Homo sapiens: one gene and its partner. The protein of the gene in region 2 interacts with the protein of the main gene of each other region in a biochemical or structural test. Each region holds a gene or a part of one and is shown on either strand. Other genes may lie near its edges.

What was found. Proteins that work in one complex are often made in the same cells at the same time.
Region 1: the proteins of SLC2A8 (region 2) and AP2A2 form a complex in vitro, tested with the Homo sapiens proteins (one study listed by BioGRID).

What each region holds. Positions count from the first base shown.
Region 1 is NC_000011.10:984,870-991,869, reverse strand, and holds part of AP2A2 (AP-2 complex subunit alpha-2), read right to left. Parts: intron 6,439-7,000; coding exon of another isoform or gene 6,436-6,438; coding exon 6,288-6,435; intron 5,086-6,287; coding exon 4,917-5,085; intron 3,319-4,916; coding exon 3,181-3,318; intron 1-3,180. UniProt on the Homo sapiens protein: Component of the adaptor protein complex 2 (AP-2). Adaptor protein complexes function in protein transport via transport vesicles in different membrane traffic pathways.
Region 2 is NC_000009.12:127,392,380-127,400,168, reverse strand, and holds the start of SLC2A8 (solute carrier family 2, facilitated glucose transporter member 8), read right to left. Parts: upstream 3,001-7,789; 5' UTR 2,939-3,000; coding exon 2,883-2,938; intron 2,794-2,882; coding exon 2,631-2,793; coding exon of another isoform or gene 2,265-2,630; coding exon 2,058-2,264; intron 1,998-2,057; exon of another isoform or gene 1,856-1,997; coding exon of another isoform or gene 1,835-1,855; intron 263-1,834; coding exon 163-262; intron 1-162. Other genes in the region: GARNL3 (GTPase-activating Rap/Ran-GAP domain-like protein 3), read right to left, coding at 6,915-7,086.

The DNA of each region.
Region 1 (7,000 bases), on a different chromosome or scaffold from region 2:
CCCTTCGAACAGCGCCAGCTGCCAACACCAACGCCAGCAGGCATCAAGACCGCGCACCTCCCGAGGGCACCCCTAATACCCTGCCGCCCCTCCCCACACCCTGCCGCCCCCTCTCCACACCCTGCCACTGGCCTCTCAGGTGCTGGTGACTGTGCCCCCCCACCCCAAGTCCCTGCCTGGAGCCTGGACCCCCAAACCCCAACCTGACTCCGTGACACTTCCAGGGCATCATTCCAAAATGTACTGCCTCTGAGCCCTACCCGCAGCTCACGGCTGTGCACCAGGGGCCCTCAGGCCTCACTGGCAGGGTCCCCATGTCTGCTTCCACCCCTGCCTCGCGTGCCCTGCTCCCCAGCCTGTGCTAAGGTACCTCCCACCCCTCCACGAACGGATGCTCTGCCCTCCCAGTAGCCTCTGCACCATCATCCTCTCCAGACCAGGCCACTATCACCTTCTGCAGAAGTCCACACAGCCCCCCAGGAGTGTAATGCCTCCTGAGGCCCCCAGAACATGAGGCACTTCCTCCAGCCATCCCACCCACAGCACAGCAACCCACGGTCCTGCTCTCAATCCGTCCCCCTCCATGGATGGCAAGGTGCCGAGTAGGCAGGGAGTGGGCCATGTCCAGTTTGGACACTTAGCACCTAGCACAGCCAGAGAACACGCCCTGCCATGCTCGACTGAAAGGACAGAGGGAAACACCATGCCCGGCTGAAAGGATGGAGGGGAGCACCATACCCGGCTGAAAGGACAGAGGGGAGCACCATACCCGGCTGAAAGGACGGAGGGGAGCACCATACCCGGCTGAAAGGACGGGGTGGGGGGAGCATCGTGCCCGGCTGAAAGGATGGAGGGGAGCACCATGCCCGGCTAAAAGGACGGAGGGGAGCACCATACCCGACTGAAAGGATGGGGTGGGGGGAGCACCATACCCGACTGAAAGGATGGGGTGGGGGGAGCACCATGCCCAGCTGAAAGGATGGGGTGGGGGGAGCACCATGCCCAGCTGAAAGGATGGGGTGGGGGGAGCACCATGCCCAGCTGAAAGGATGGGGTGAGGGGAGCACCATGCCCAGATGAAAGGACGGGGTGGGGGGAGCACCCTGCCCGGCTGAAAGGATGGGGTGGGGGGAGCACCATGCCCAGCTGAAAGGATGGGGTGGGGGAGCACCATGCCCAGCTGAAAGGATGGGGTGAGGGGAGCATCATGTCCGGCTGAAAGGACGGGCTGGGGGGAGCATCATGCAGGCCAAGACACAGCACCTGTCTTACTCCTCACAGCAGGAGCTGGCTGAGGATTGCCGCTCATCACGCAGAGGGGCGAGAGCAGACACCGGGCTGACGAATGCCCAGGACCTCAAAATCTGCACAACTGCACTCAGAAGCACACTGCTTCTGTCTCTGTTCAAAACACCCAGAACAACAATCAGGAACGAGGCTCCCGTGACGGCCGTCCCCAGAGCCAGCCCCACCCCACCACAAGTGCTGACACCAGGCCACACTGCCCCAGCCAGGCCAGAGAGGGACCACTGGCTACAGTCAACGAGCACCTGCCTGGCCCCTCTACAGACAGCCCTGCCCTACACCACGGTGCCTGCCCTTGGGGCCTCCTGCCGGGAGTCAGCCCACCCCGTCCCTGTCCCCCTCAACTTCCCAGGCCCACTGTCCTGGAGGGTGGACAGTCCAGCGTGAGAGCCGCCTCCTGGCCCCTGCTCTCTGCAGGTCTGCAGTGCCTCACTGAAGCTCAGTCCATGGTAATTTCACCCCTCAGCATTGAAGCCCCAGCACCTGGGCTCCTCCGTTCACTAAAAGACCCCTGAAAACCCGAGTCTCTCACCTGGGCATGACCACACAACACCTGCCCAGAGCAACCCTGTCACCTGCCACTAGCTCCAACACTGGCTCTCGGCAAAGCTCCCAAGGAGGCCTTGAGCCGCACTTCGCCCAAAAAAAACAAATAACAAAGCGCTTTCTATACAACGGAGGCGCTGTCTCAGCCTCAACAAGAGGCTGTGGTCCTGGCTGGTCACAGTGGCGAACCCCACGCGAGGACACCGGGCCTCCCCCTTAAACCCCACCATCCACAGACACGGTGAGCCTGAGAGGCCTGTGAGTGTGGTGGAGGCCTCAGGCCCTCTTCTCTGCTGACCATGTGGCCTCCACAAGGGTTTCTTCCCTCAGGTTTTGGTTCATGCTCAGTCTTTCACACGTACAGGTTTGATGAGCTTCAGCTATCTGGCAAGTGTGCACACCTACTTTGTGAATAAAAACAACACGGGACATTAAGCTATGGCCTAGATCCCGTCCTTCCCAGAGATCAAGAGGGACACCCAAAAAAGCCAAGCCACAAAGGATTAATTCAAGGGCTCAAAATGCAACACAATTAAAAGAATTTTGCCCACAGGAGTCTGGATTTGTGCAGCCCCAGCGCAGACGGCTGGAGCCTCACTCAGACCTGGGGCTACAGTGCCACCACTGCAAGGACAGGCAGGCCACAGAAGCCGCGCAGGACGGGCATTTTAGTTTTTTTTTTTTTGAGACAGAGTTTCGCTCTTGTTGCTCAGGCTGGAGTGCAATGGCGCAATCTCGGCTCACCACAACCTCCGCCTCCGCCTCCCGGGTTCAAGCGATTCTCCTGCCTCAGCCTCCGGAGTAGCTGGCATTACAGGCATGCGCCACTACGCCCGGCTAATTTTGTATTTTCAGTAGAGACGGGGTCAGGGTTTCCCCATGTTTGTCAGGCTGGTCTTGAACTCCTGACCTCAGGTGATCCGCCCGCCTTGGCCTCCCAAGGTGTACAGGCGTGAGCCACCACACCCGGCCAATAGTTATTTTCAAGACCAAACGACTCTACCAAAAATGCTGATTTTTTTTTAAGACAGGGTCTCGCTGTGTTGCCCAGGCTAGAGTGCAGTGACATGATCTCGACTCACTGCAGCCTCAACCTCCTGGCCTCAGGTGATCCTCCCGCCTCCACCTCAGGAGTAGCGGGGACCACAGGTGCCACCACACCCAGCTTGAAAATGTGGATGAAAACACAGAGGCAGAGGAGCCTTGTATTCAGCATCTCATGGGTTCTCAATCAAGTCCTGCTGGACGGAATCGCAGAGCACGAAGGAAATCCTGCCGCTGAGATTCACGCCTGTGGCAGGAGAGGACTCAGAGGCCACCAGAACTCACAATCTCTTCTCGGATGGAGTAGTCAGCTGTCTCCAGATAGCTCAGCATCTCGGCCACGATCTGTGGGGCGTTGCTGCGGTCGCACATGGCGTAGAGGAGGTCCACGGCCCGCTGCCGCACGCTCACGTCCCGCTCAGTCTGGGGAACAAGGCACAGAGTAAGAGGTCGCAGGAGCAAGGCACAAGCTTGGGGACAGGCTGGGGACAGGCTCGGCACCCGCATCTCAACACCCACTCTGAGTTTCCCTCACATGCACATCCAGGTCCAGGGAGCCGACCTGCACTCGGGCCACGTGTGTCTGGACAGCCCGGAATAGAGTTCCGCCTGCTGGCCCGGCCCTCCCGCACAGGCCAGCTTCGCTAGGACCCAGCGCACTGCCTGGATTCTGCCCGCTCGTCCATGCCTCCCTTGCCCTCCACAAGGGCCAGCTTCGCTAGGACTGAGCGCACTGCCTGGTGCAGGCCATCAAGGACTCCCTTCCATGCAGCCAAAGACCCCACTGCCTCGGACACGGAGCTGCCCCAAGGCAGGTCCTCACGCCCCACCCCAGAGCCCGTGCTGATGGGCCCCCAGGAGGCTCTGCAGCACGAGAAAGCCCGAGCTCTGCTCCCAACAAAGGCAGGAGAGTGGGCACCACCAGCGCTAGCACTGGCCGTGTGCAAATGAGTGTCCAGCCCTTCTGACAATAGGGATTGACTAAAACAAACACCAAAACCAGGACCAAGAAGAATCCAGAATACCAAATGCCCACCACGAGCCCCTTGCACACCACCCGGAATATCTGTGAGCTGCACGCAGACGTGCGGGGGACTGGGAGCAGCCCTGCCACAGCCTGAGGCTGAGCCAGATGGGGGACATGCAGCTCCCCGCCTCCCACTCCCTAACGCATGTGCACCGGTGACTAGGGACTTGGTGGACACACCGCAGGGTCCCCTATGTGGAACGAACCCTCGGGGTCGCTCTGGAGACTCGCAAAGGCTGGCAATGGCCAACCTCAACTGGGCTCTTCCAACTCTGAAATTTTTTTTTTTTTTTGAGACGGAGTCTCGCTCTGTCGCCCACGCTGGAGTGCAGTGGCGCGATCTCGGCTCACTGCAAGCTCCGCCTCTTGGGTTCAAGCCATTCTTCTGCCTGAGCCTCCTGAGTAGCTGGGACTACAGGCACCGGCCGCCACCACGCCCGGCTAATTTTTTTTTGCATTTTTAGTAAAGACGGGGTTTCACCGTGTTAGCCGGGATGGTCTCGATCTCCTGACCTTGTGATCCACCCGCCTCGGCCTCCCAAAGTGCTGGGATTACAGGCGTCAGCCACCGCGCCCGGCCCCAACTCTGAAATTTTAATCCCCGAACAAAGTGAGTTTCCTTTGTAAAAGGGGGATTTTCTTGGAGATAAGGGAAAAAAATTTCATCTTTCTACCAAGAAGAACCATTTCTACTTGTCAGCACTATGCACGCGCAGGATGGCACACGGGGGCTGCCCCCAGCAGGGAAAGGGCTGCCAGAGACTCCTCTGCTCAGCCTAACCAGGACAGCAGGGCCAACCCGGCCATCTCCAGGCAGCATGGCCCTCAACAGTGGTGTGACCTCCCAAGAGTAGGTGACAGGCGGAGGCCAGCAGCACCAGCACCACCTCCATCTCTGCGGGGAGTCAGGAGGCACTGCGTACCCCCAGCCTTCACAGGAAGACCCACGGCACCTGCTCAGGGAGTGAGCAGAACCCAAGGACAGGGCACTCGCCTTCAGGGCGTTGATGACCGTCTCGATGTGCGTCTTGACAGCCTCATGGGAGAACTCAGAGCTGGCCAGCGTGCACATGCTCTCCAGGGCCAGGTAGCGCAGGTTGGTCTCGCGGTGCTGCAGAAACTGGCCCAACTGGTTGCAGGCACGGACGAGCAGGTTCGGCTCACTGTGTGGAGGGAGGGGAAGTGGGTGGGGTTTCCTCAGCAAGTGCAACACAAACTGGACAGAGTCTGCGTTCCCCGACGGGTCCAGATGGCAGACAGCAAAGTCACACGGCACTCACCGCCACCACACTGCTCAAGTGGGAACTCGGGGGCCTCCCCAGATGCAGATGACGCCCGACCCCCACCCCTGACATCCATTTTGTGTCCATCCTGTGCATCCCCACAGTGAGTCAGCAGCCCGTGTGTCCACTGGAGCCTTCCCAGCACCTCCTGAGCCTCAATCTGCATCAGGCCCGCGGGAGGCCGGTCAAGCTGTGACCGGCAATGGGGTCTCAGCCAGAGGCACCAGCCCAGGGCAGGGAGAAGGCCGAGAAGGCCGGGAGCGCGGCTGCTGCCCCACTGACTCTACTGTCTCCTCAGGATGTGGCTTCTCCTCACATAACAACAGAGCTTTCTCCAAAATGGGAAATTTCAGTTTTAATAACTCTCAGTTCTGAAGTGTGACTCTCAGACTGAGTTTTCATCATTTGTAAAAATGCTGTAGTAGCAAATGGGTGGTGTTCACAAGCTGTAGAGAGCGTCTGCCCACAGCCTGGCACGTGCCCTCATTATTGGGAGCCTGGTGAGAACTGCGATCTCATTCTCACAGGACCCTAAAGCATGGCCCCACACGCAAGACCCACGCCAGACCACATGTGGTGCGCCGCAACTGCTGAGCAGAGAAGGCGTGGGAGCAGAGGAGGCAGACCCTCCAGGCTGTGTGGAGCGACCGCCACCCTGCGCCTCTGCGCTTCGTGGATGGGCACAGACGTTTCCAGCACTGCCCTGCGACCCTGGACCCACCAAGTGCGGCTCCACATCCAGCAAAGCCACGGGACATGCGCGCACACCCCCCACCCCACCCGTCTCCTCTCTGTTCCACTACATGAGAAGCCAGTCAGGAGTGGGGATGCTCAGGGGAAGGAGGAAAAGGCCCTCGTGTGGGATGAGACCACAGTCACCAAAGCAATCCACGGTGAGCTCAGAGCAGGAGGGGCCGGGCTGCACAGAAAGAAAAAAAGCATCCGGCAGGGAGCACAGAGGCAGGACGAAGGGGAGGCCCATGGAGTGGACAAACCAGACATGATCCGCCCAGTCTCGTGCCAACGAGAAGGAACGTGTGTGTGTGCGCGAGACGAAGCCTCTCCACAGGCAGCCGACACACCTGTCATGGTGAATGATTAAGCTGATGGCCTCGAAGAGCACGGCATTCTTCGCGTTGGAGTGCTGGACCTTCTTCGACTTGGGCGGTTCTTGGGCTTTGTTCAGGATGGTCTCCAGGCACTCAGTCAGGCGGCCTCGCACTGCAGGGTCTTCTGGGCAAGACAGAACGGTGCTCACCAGTCTCCAGTGGCCCGCAGCCCACCCTGCCCCTCCCGGCTGCACCCATACATCATGAGAGCATTTTTAATATAGTTCATTCACATTTGTGTACCCAGCTGGAAGCATTTACAAAACTGAGACAGGCCGGGCACGGTGGCTCACTTCTGTAATCCCAGCACTTTGGGAGGCCGAGGCAGGCCAGTCACCTGAGGTCAGGAGTTCAAGAACAGACTGGCCAACATGGTGAAACCCCGTCTCTACAAAAACGCAAAAGTTAGCCGGGTATGATGGCAGGTGCCTGTAATCCCAGCTACTCAGGAAGATGAGGTGGGAGAATCGCTTGAACCCGGGAGGCAGAGGTTGCAGTGAGCTGAGGTCGCGTCACTGCACTCCAGCCTGGGCAACAAAGGGAGACTCCATCTCAAAAAGAAAACCTGCACAAATCTGATACTATAAAAGCACAAATAGACCCAAACACTAACAAAACTGTAGGCTCTGCAATAACTGCTCCACGAAAGCCAGCGCATACAGCAGCACTGGCAGAAAGGTCCATGA
Region 2 (7,789 bases):
AAGACTCACCTATCCCAAGGTCCCAGGAAGGCGAGCCTGGCATGTTGGGCACTGGCTATGTGACCTCAGACAAGTCCCTTGACCTCACTGAACCTCTGTTTACACATCTGTAAAATGGCCACATGACCACAAACAGGAAGCAAGAGATAATGACAACTATACCTGCCAGGTAGGCCAGGAGGATGCCGACGACGACCATTAGCTGCACACAGGAGCCGAGCAACCCCCGGACTGCTGGGTAGGCGATTTCGGAGATGTAGACCTGCCAGCAATCAGATGAGGATTTATGGCTGGGCGCAGTGGCTCATGCCTGCAATCCCAGCACTCTGGGAGGCCGAGGCGGGCAGATCACCAGAGGTTGGGAGTTTGAGACTGGCCTGACCAACAGGGAGAAACCCCATCTCTACTAAAAATACAAAATTAGCTGGGCCTAGTGGCACACATCTGTAATCCCAGCTACTCAGGAGGTTGAGGGAGGAGAATCACTTGAACCCTGGAGGTGGAGGTTGCGGTGAGCCAAGATCCCACCATTGCACTCCAGCCTGGGCAACAAGAGCGAAACTCCGAAATTTTTAAATAAAAATTAAAAAAAAAAAAAAAAAGATGAGGCTTTACTCAGGCTCCAAGAGTTCTTAAAATGGAAAGGTCTCAGCCATTCAGAGCTGAGGAAAGTCCTTGCAGGGGGTTACGGCAGGCCCTGAAGCCCCTTAGTGGAACCTGCCTAGGTGAGCAGAGCCATCCCCAGGTCCCCACCACTGAAAGATCTGTGGCAGGTGTTTAAAGGGGATTAAGGGTAACGGAGAGGGCTGCATATGATGACGAGAGGCGGTGGGCACAGAGCTTCTCAAGCCTTCGTTTAATGTGCACAGACACCCTGGATAAATCATAGATTCCGATGCAGTAGGTCTGGACAGGCGAAAGATTCCACCTTGTTAACCAGCTCCACGTGACGCCCACCCAGGATCCTAGCCCAGGGCCCACGCTTTGAGTGGTGGCCTTGGACTAGAAGCACGAACTCTCTGCCTCGGTCACTACCAGTGGCTGCCACTAGCTCCCTCCTGGGCCCACAGGCCACCAGGCCCTCACCCATGCATCTAAGGTTATTCCATAGCTTAGGCCCCTAACACAGGTGTGTTTCTGCCCAGTTAAAAAAACCAAAGACATAAAAGGCCCAGCTTCTTCCCCACCCTCTTCTGGTCCAGCTGCTGCTGCCGGTTAGCAAACGTTGGTGAAATGAGCACCCAGGGAGGGGCCTGAGTGGCTGCTTTCAACCTCACTTGGGGGAGATATTGTCCAAGCCCATGGCTGGGGGCAGTTCATGGGTCACCAAGCTGTCAGGATCCAGTCCTCTACAAGCCATGCCAGGGGCTGTCTATCCAAAGTCCCACTGAATCCTGACCACTACCTCAGGGGCTAATGCCATAATCCCTGTTTTCCAGAGAAGGAAACTGAGGCCCAGGGAGGCACTCTGCTCAGGTTAGTGGCAGAACCAGGATTTGACCCAGATGTTCGGGGCTCCCAAGTGGGCAGCCTGGGTCAGGAGGGGGAAAGGGGGAAGATGGGGAAGCCAGAGGGGCTGGCCTGTGAGAAGGGAAGGGGAACACAGAGGCCAGCAGCCTTTGCCCCAAGAGAAATCAGGACAGGAACTTCCTGCTAATTGCAGTCATTGACCCGAAGCCAGGGATGAAAACCAAAATGTAGGGAGTGGGCTCCTGTGGATCATCCGCAGGTTTGCAGAGCAAAAGAGGGGCACGGCTAAGTGGGACAACCCTGGGTTCCTGCAACTGCTTCCCCTCTGACTAGCTGTGGACCTCGCCTGGGCAAAGGACTTCACCTTTCCGAGACTGCATGTCATGACCTCAGTGTAAAATGGAGAGAACAGTAGGATCCTTCCCAGGGTCGACGGGAGGGACCGCGAGATAACGCAGGGACTTCAAGCCTGGCACCCAGAAGGTCCCGCCAGGGGGAGCCGCGCCCCCAGGCCTGGGGAGCGGTTTGTCCCACTCCCCCTCGGTCTCAGGCCGCGAGACAGGACACTCGAGAGACGGGACACTCACCGGGGCCACTAGGGAGGCAACACCGCAGGCCAGGCCGGTGAGGAGGCGGCCCCCCAGCAGCATCCACACGTCCTGGGCCGCGGTGATGACGGCAAAGCCGGCCACGAAGGGCACGGAGCACAGCAAGAGGCTCAGCTTGCGCCCGGCGCGGTCCACCAGCCAGCCGCCCAGCACTCCCCCCGCCGCGGCACCCAGGGTCACGACAGCCTGGAGGCGGGCGGCTGCTGAGGAGGGGGCGCCGAAGCCGCAGCCCATCCTCCCCCTCCACCCACTCCCCGCGGGCTCAGAGGTAAAAGAGCCGGGGCCCCGCGCCCGTCCCGAGGGGAGGGGTAGGGGGCTGAGGGGCCCGGTGCTCGTCCCGAGGGGAGGGGTGGGGGCTGAGGGGCTCGATGCCCGTCCCGAGGGAAGGGATGGGGGGCAGAGAGGCCCAATGCCTGTCTCGTGGGGAAAGGTGGTGGCGGCGGGGCCCGATGCCTGTCCCGAGGGGAAGGGTGGGGGGCGGAGGGTCCCGATGCCCGTCCCGAGAGGAGGGCGTGGGGTCCCAGGGCGGGAGGAGCGAGCCCGGGGCCTCACCCCGAACCAGGAGGCGGCGGCGTCGTCCAGGCGCGGGGCCGGGGGCGCGGCGCGCTGCAGGCTAGGGATGGCCGGGGAGCTGTAGCCGAGCGCGAAGCCGAAGCTGAGTGGGCCCAGGGCAGCGGCGAAGGCGGCGAGGAAGACGCGGCGGCCGCGGGGCGCGCTGGGGGGACAGGGCCGAGGGTGAGCGGAGCGGACGCGGAGGGGCGGGAGGGCGAGGCCGCATCCGGGCCCGGGTTCCCCGGAGCTCACCTGCCGCCAGGAGGCCCCAGAAGCGGCTGGGTTTCCTCTGGGTCCTCGGGCGTCATGTCGGCGGCCAACGCCGATCGGCCAGCTCTGGCGCCTGAACCGCCACGGGCCCTGCGAGTGCGGCCCGCACCGGCCTCTCGCAGCCAATGGGCGGCGGGGGGTGGGGGACGGTGCTGGGCGGGATCGGAACCGCAGAGCAGGAGCAGCCAATAGGAACGCAAGGCGGGGCTAGCGAATCAGCTAGGACCCGCCCTTCACATTAAAGCAGACCAATGGGAGCATAGAACCGATTAGCGAAGCGCGCTGGAACCGCCCCTAGGGCGGAGCGGTCCAAGGTACAGGTGGGGCGGAGTTTCCGTCTGGGAGAACAACCACCCAATTGGAGTGTAGTGCGAGCCCATAGACGGGGCCAGAGAGCTGCCTCAGAACTGAGCTGGCCAATGAGGTTGGAGGGAGGAGTTTTTTTTCTGGCACCTCCTCTCAATCTGGCTTCAACCAATGAGGGTAGAGGCGGGGCGAAGGCGAAGCACGTGGGCCTCAGCCCGAGACTTCCCGCCCCCAACTCCGAGAAGCTGCACCTGTCCTGCCCGGTCGGGTCTGCAGTTCCTGCTCCGCTTTAATCGCTGCCCTGGGGACTGTATTGGAGGCGTCTGACCTATGCCTGGGCCCAGCTCTGCAGGGGAGAGAGCCTCTAAGCAGACCGTCCTGGGCCGCCTCTCTCTCCTCTCGGAGGGCGAGACTGGTCAGACGCTCCCGCTGGGCTGCTGGCGGCGGAGGCGTGGCCCTGTGCACCGAAACCCACTTTCATGCTTCCCAGATTGCTGAAGGCTCGGGTCTCCAGGTGCTGAGGACCAGTGGTAGGTGGGGTCCCCCACGCCGTATGTGTGACAGATCTGGGCTCCACTCCCCCTCTTAAGTGTCACTCACTTCACAGGGAGTCCTGACTCTTGAATCTTCATCTACCTGCCTCCATATTTTGAGTTCCCTGTGGATTTTAATGCCACCTTCTCCCGTGTGCACCCAAGTCGAATGATGAGGCACTGTTGGATCTCACCAGTTGTACCCGATTCATACCCAACACTCTGGGTGCAGGCAGCTGTGGTGGAATGCTGGTGTAATTCTGGAAAGAGCCAGGGCATGGGAGTAAGAGGCTTGGCTTGTAATCCCTCTCTGGGCCTTGTGTTTCCTCATCTCTAAGTGGGGATGACCATTATCTTCCAGGAGAGTTGTGAAGCAAGGTAATGTATATAAGACATGTGAAGCACTCAAAGGCTAACCGGTATGATGAAGACAGTCATCTGATATGTTGCAGTCACTTGATGGTTCTAGCAACCAACATTTTTCAGTCCTGACCACAAGCCTATCCTTAAAGACTTAGGCAACTGCCCTTCTGTACTCCCACAGCATCTAATGCTTGATAACTCGAGCACTAGATGTGTATTCTTATCACAGCATTTATCACTGCTTTGTGATCCCTTGTTTACTTCCGTCCTTCCCCCAATGGACATGACCTCCTCTGGAGAGGAGGCACTTGGTGTGTGCAGAGTGGATCAATGCCTCCAACTCCATAGGCAGACACTGCAGTTAGATGATTTTCTGTGTGACTCAGCCAGTCGGGTACACAGAAAGGATTATGTAGGCAGGGTGCTCCTACCCTGTGGCCGATGGCTTCCCTTCCCGTGAGTGTGCAGAACTCACTTCTTGGCCTTTGTAGACAAATAATGTTGCCAGAACAGCCTCCTGCCCCCTTTTCATAGGCAAAGCACCATCAGCCTGATCAGTAGGGTCCACCTCTTGCCCTTGCTACATCACTCCTCAGACCTGTGACTCTTGTCAAATTGTGGGTGGCTCTAATGCTGCTGATTTGGAAGAATGCTCTAAAATAGTCCTTGGGTTTTTTTTATGCTACACTGTGAAGCAAGAAACTTCCAGAAAAAAAGGAAAAACACAGATACAAGCTCATAAAGCTTACAAATTAGTTTAACATGAAAAACACCAGCCAGATCCAGCTGACACAAGGCACTGAGCCTGGCTCTGCATGGCAGACGTGGGGAAAGCAAGGGCTCTGGAGTCAAAGAACTTGCAGGTTCAAACCATTGCCCCTTCCTAAGCCTATTTCCTTATTTGAAAAGCAAGAATAATAAAACATAATTCATTAAACTGTTGGTGGGGTTGAGACACAGTGTTTTTTTCCCCCTATATAGGAAAAGGGCATAAAACACACAAAGGAAGAATGGGCATGCTAACTGCTGCAAAGAATATGAGCAGACACATTTGGTTATAAACAGCCCCATCTGGGTATACCTAAAAAGCACTGTCTTTACTACTCTTGACTCTTGCCTTCTGCCAAAGATGAACCAAGCAACCTTCAGCTTGGGCTATCATGCTGATCTGTTTGTACAAAAGACAGAGAGGGGAACTTTCCCCACAGTGTGCAAGGCCCACTAGGAGGTACGACCCAAACTTCTATAAAATCTGTCAGACCAAGGTCCTGTCAAACTCAGTTCTCCACACTCACAAAGAAGGCCTGCTGGCCGGGCATAGTGGCTCACACCTATAATCCCAGCATTTTGGGAGGCCAAGGTGGGCGGATCACGAGGTCAGGAGTTCGAGACCAGCCTGGCCAACATGGTGAAACCCCATCTCTACTAAAATACAAAAATTAGCTGGGTGTGGTGATGCGTGCCTGTAATCCCAGCTACTTAGGAGGCTGAGGCAGCAGAATGGCTTGAACCTGGGAGGTGGAGGTTGCAGAGAGCCGAGATCGTGCCACTGCACTCCAGCCTGGGCAATAGAGTAAGACTCTGTCTAAAAAAAAAAAAAAAAAAAAGCCTGCAGAAGAACTCTTCTGAGCTGCTTTAACGGGGTAACAGGAAGTTTCCTTTGATGAATAATGTAATAATATAAGTAGGAAGAGACAGAATAAAATTGAATTGGCTAGACTAAAGCCAAAGGTAAAATACCTTCTTCACACAGATTAAAATATTTGCAAACAATGCTAGTGAAACTGGATCTCCCCTTGGCTAGTGGCTGAGATTTCACTATTTCTTTTGCACTTGGCCCAGTCCACATTTCTTTCTGTTCACACTGGAGAGGGAGCCAGGAAAGGCAGATAAACCAAATTATTATCTTCATATCATTTATGTGAAAGAGTGAGGGGGACTCAAAAAGAAGGAGGAGTTTGAAAATGCTTTCTTTTTTTTTTCTTTTCTTTTCTTTTTTTTTTTTTTTTTTTTGAGACAGGGTCTCCCTCTGTTGCCCAGACTGGAGAACAGTGGTGCAATCTTAGCTCACTGCAGCCTTAAACTCCTGGGCACAAGGGATCCTTCCACCTTGGCCTTCCAAAGCACTGGGATTACAATGAGAATACTTTTAACCACAAGGAGTAGCTGTTCTCTGGTTACATTATTGCAGAGTAACAATAAAACCACACAAAATAATCTGAAGACTTTTGACAAGCTCCTATGCCTTAATATTTTTCATGAGATGCAGGGAAGAAGGAGGAGCTTCTAAGATCTAACCATTCAACTTTTCTCAAAAGTCTACAGGCAGGAATGCAGCTGGTTCCAATCACGGTGAACTGAAACAGCAACCGGGGCCAAAGGTGCAGAAAAAAAACTTACTTATAATAAAGTTAAAAAGCAACGACTTTTCTTTATAAAAGAAACACATTATGTGACATAAATCAAAACTGTAATGAAAAAATAATTTTCCATCTAAGTATATAAAATATGAGAAGGTTGCAGTAAATAAGAATGAGTATTTTTGATTTATTCAAAGTTTCAATCTAAAACCTCAATGAAATCTACCACCTTTATTACAAGGGGACTGATGGTTCCTGAACAGAAAGAAACAAAGGTCAGGAAAGATGGCACCGGACATTGGAGAGGGAACTGGCCGAGTGTGCAGAAGGTTTGGTCCAATAGATCACTGACAGGCTAAAAGCCACATTTTGTTGAGAAATTACATCAGAACTGTTTAAAGAGTATAAACCTCCATAAGAAAACTAAAGATGGCAAATGAGATTCAACTCTGTTACTTCAAGTCTATAATGTCTTCATCGGAGAAAGCCGTGAGCTGGAAGGGGCTGCTGCCGGAGACCGGGCTGCCCTCTCTGTCTGCCACAGGGTCCTGGTCAGAGCTGGCTGAGTGCCCCTCAGGGTTGGCTTCGGAAGTAGAAGCACTTTCCAAGGAGCCTGATGGGATCCTAGAAGAGAAAAGTCACTGTAAGAGGATCTTTGGGAGTACCACAGAACTGGGCCTATTTTTTTCTGGCAATTTCCTGCTCATCTGAGCTCATGAGTTTGGCTCACCAAACCCTCACTGTTATGTGGTAGAGGTGGGGAAGTGCTGGAATGCCACCCCCATCACCTCAGGGGGTTTTGAGGATTAAAGGCCGAGTGTGTGACACATGGAAGGTGTTTGTGAGGCATTATTTACCTACCTTTCTAAAGTGCAAATCCAGATAATGTCATCCTGCCTAAAACCCTCCCATGGGTGCCCAGGGCCTGAGGATCAGGCTGAAACTCATAGCCAAGGTTCCGGGACTAGGCCTGTGATCCCTCCAGCCTCCCAGGGCACCCCTGACTCCCTCTGTTTCCTCCAGCTCCTCAGGACTCTCTCAATAGCTGCATATTAATTTGACCAATATTGGTTTCCACTTCTCAGAGAGTTAATGCATTCCACAAATACTCATTGGCCTGCAAAAGCCCACCTGGCTCAGCTGCTGCCCACTCTCGGCCTCACACAGTTCCTGGCTCCGTTCTCTATGCTCAAGCCTGTCCACTCTTCCTCCTGCCTTTTAACTGGCCATGCTAGGCCTGCTTCGGGGCCCTTGCCCTGAGGTAGTTGCTGTCAGAAGGGCTGTTCCCCTAGCTTCTTACCGTTTATTCCAAGCCCAGCCCAATGCT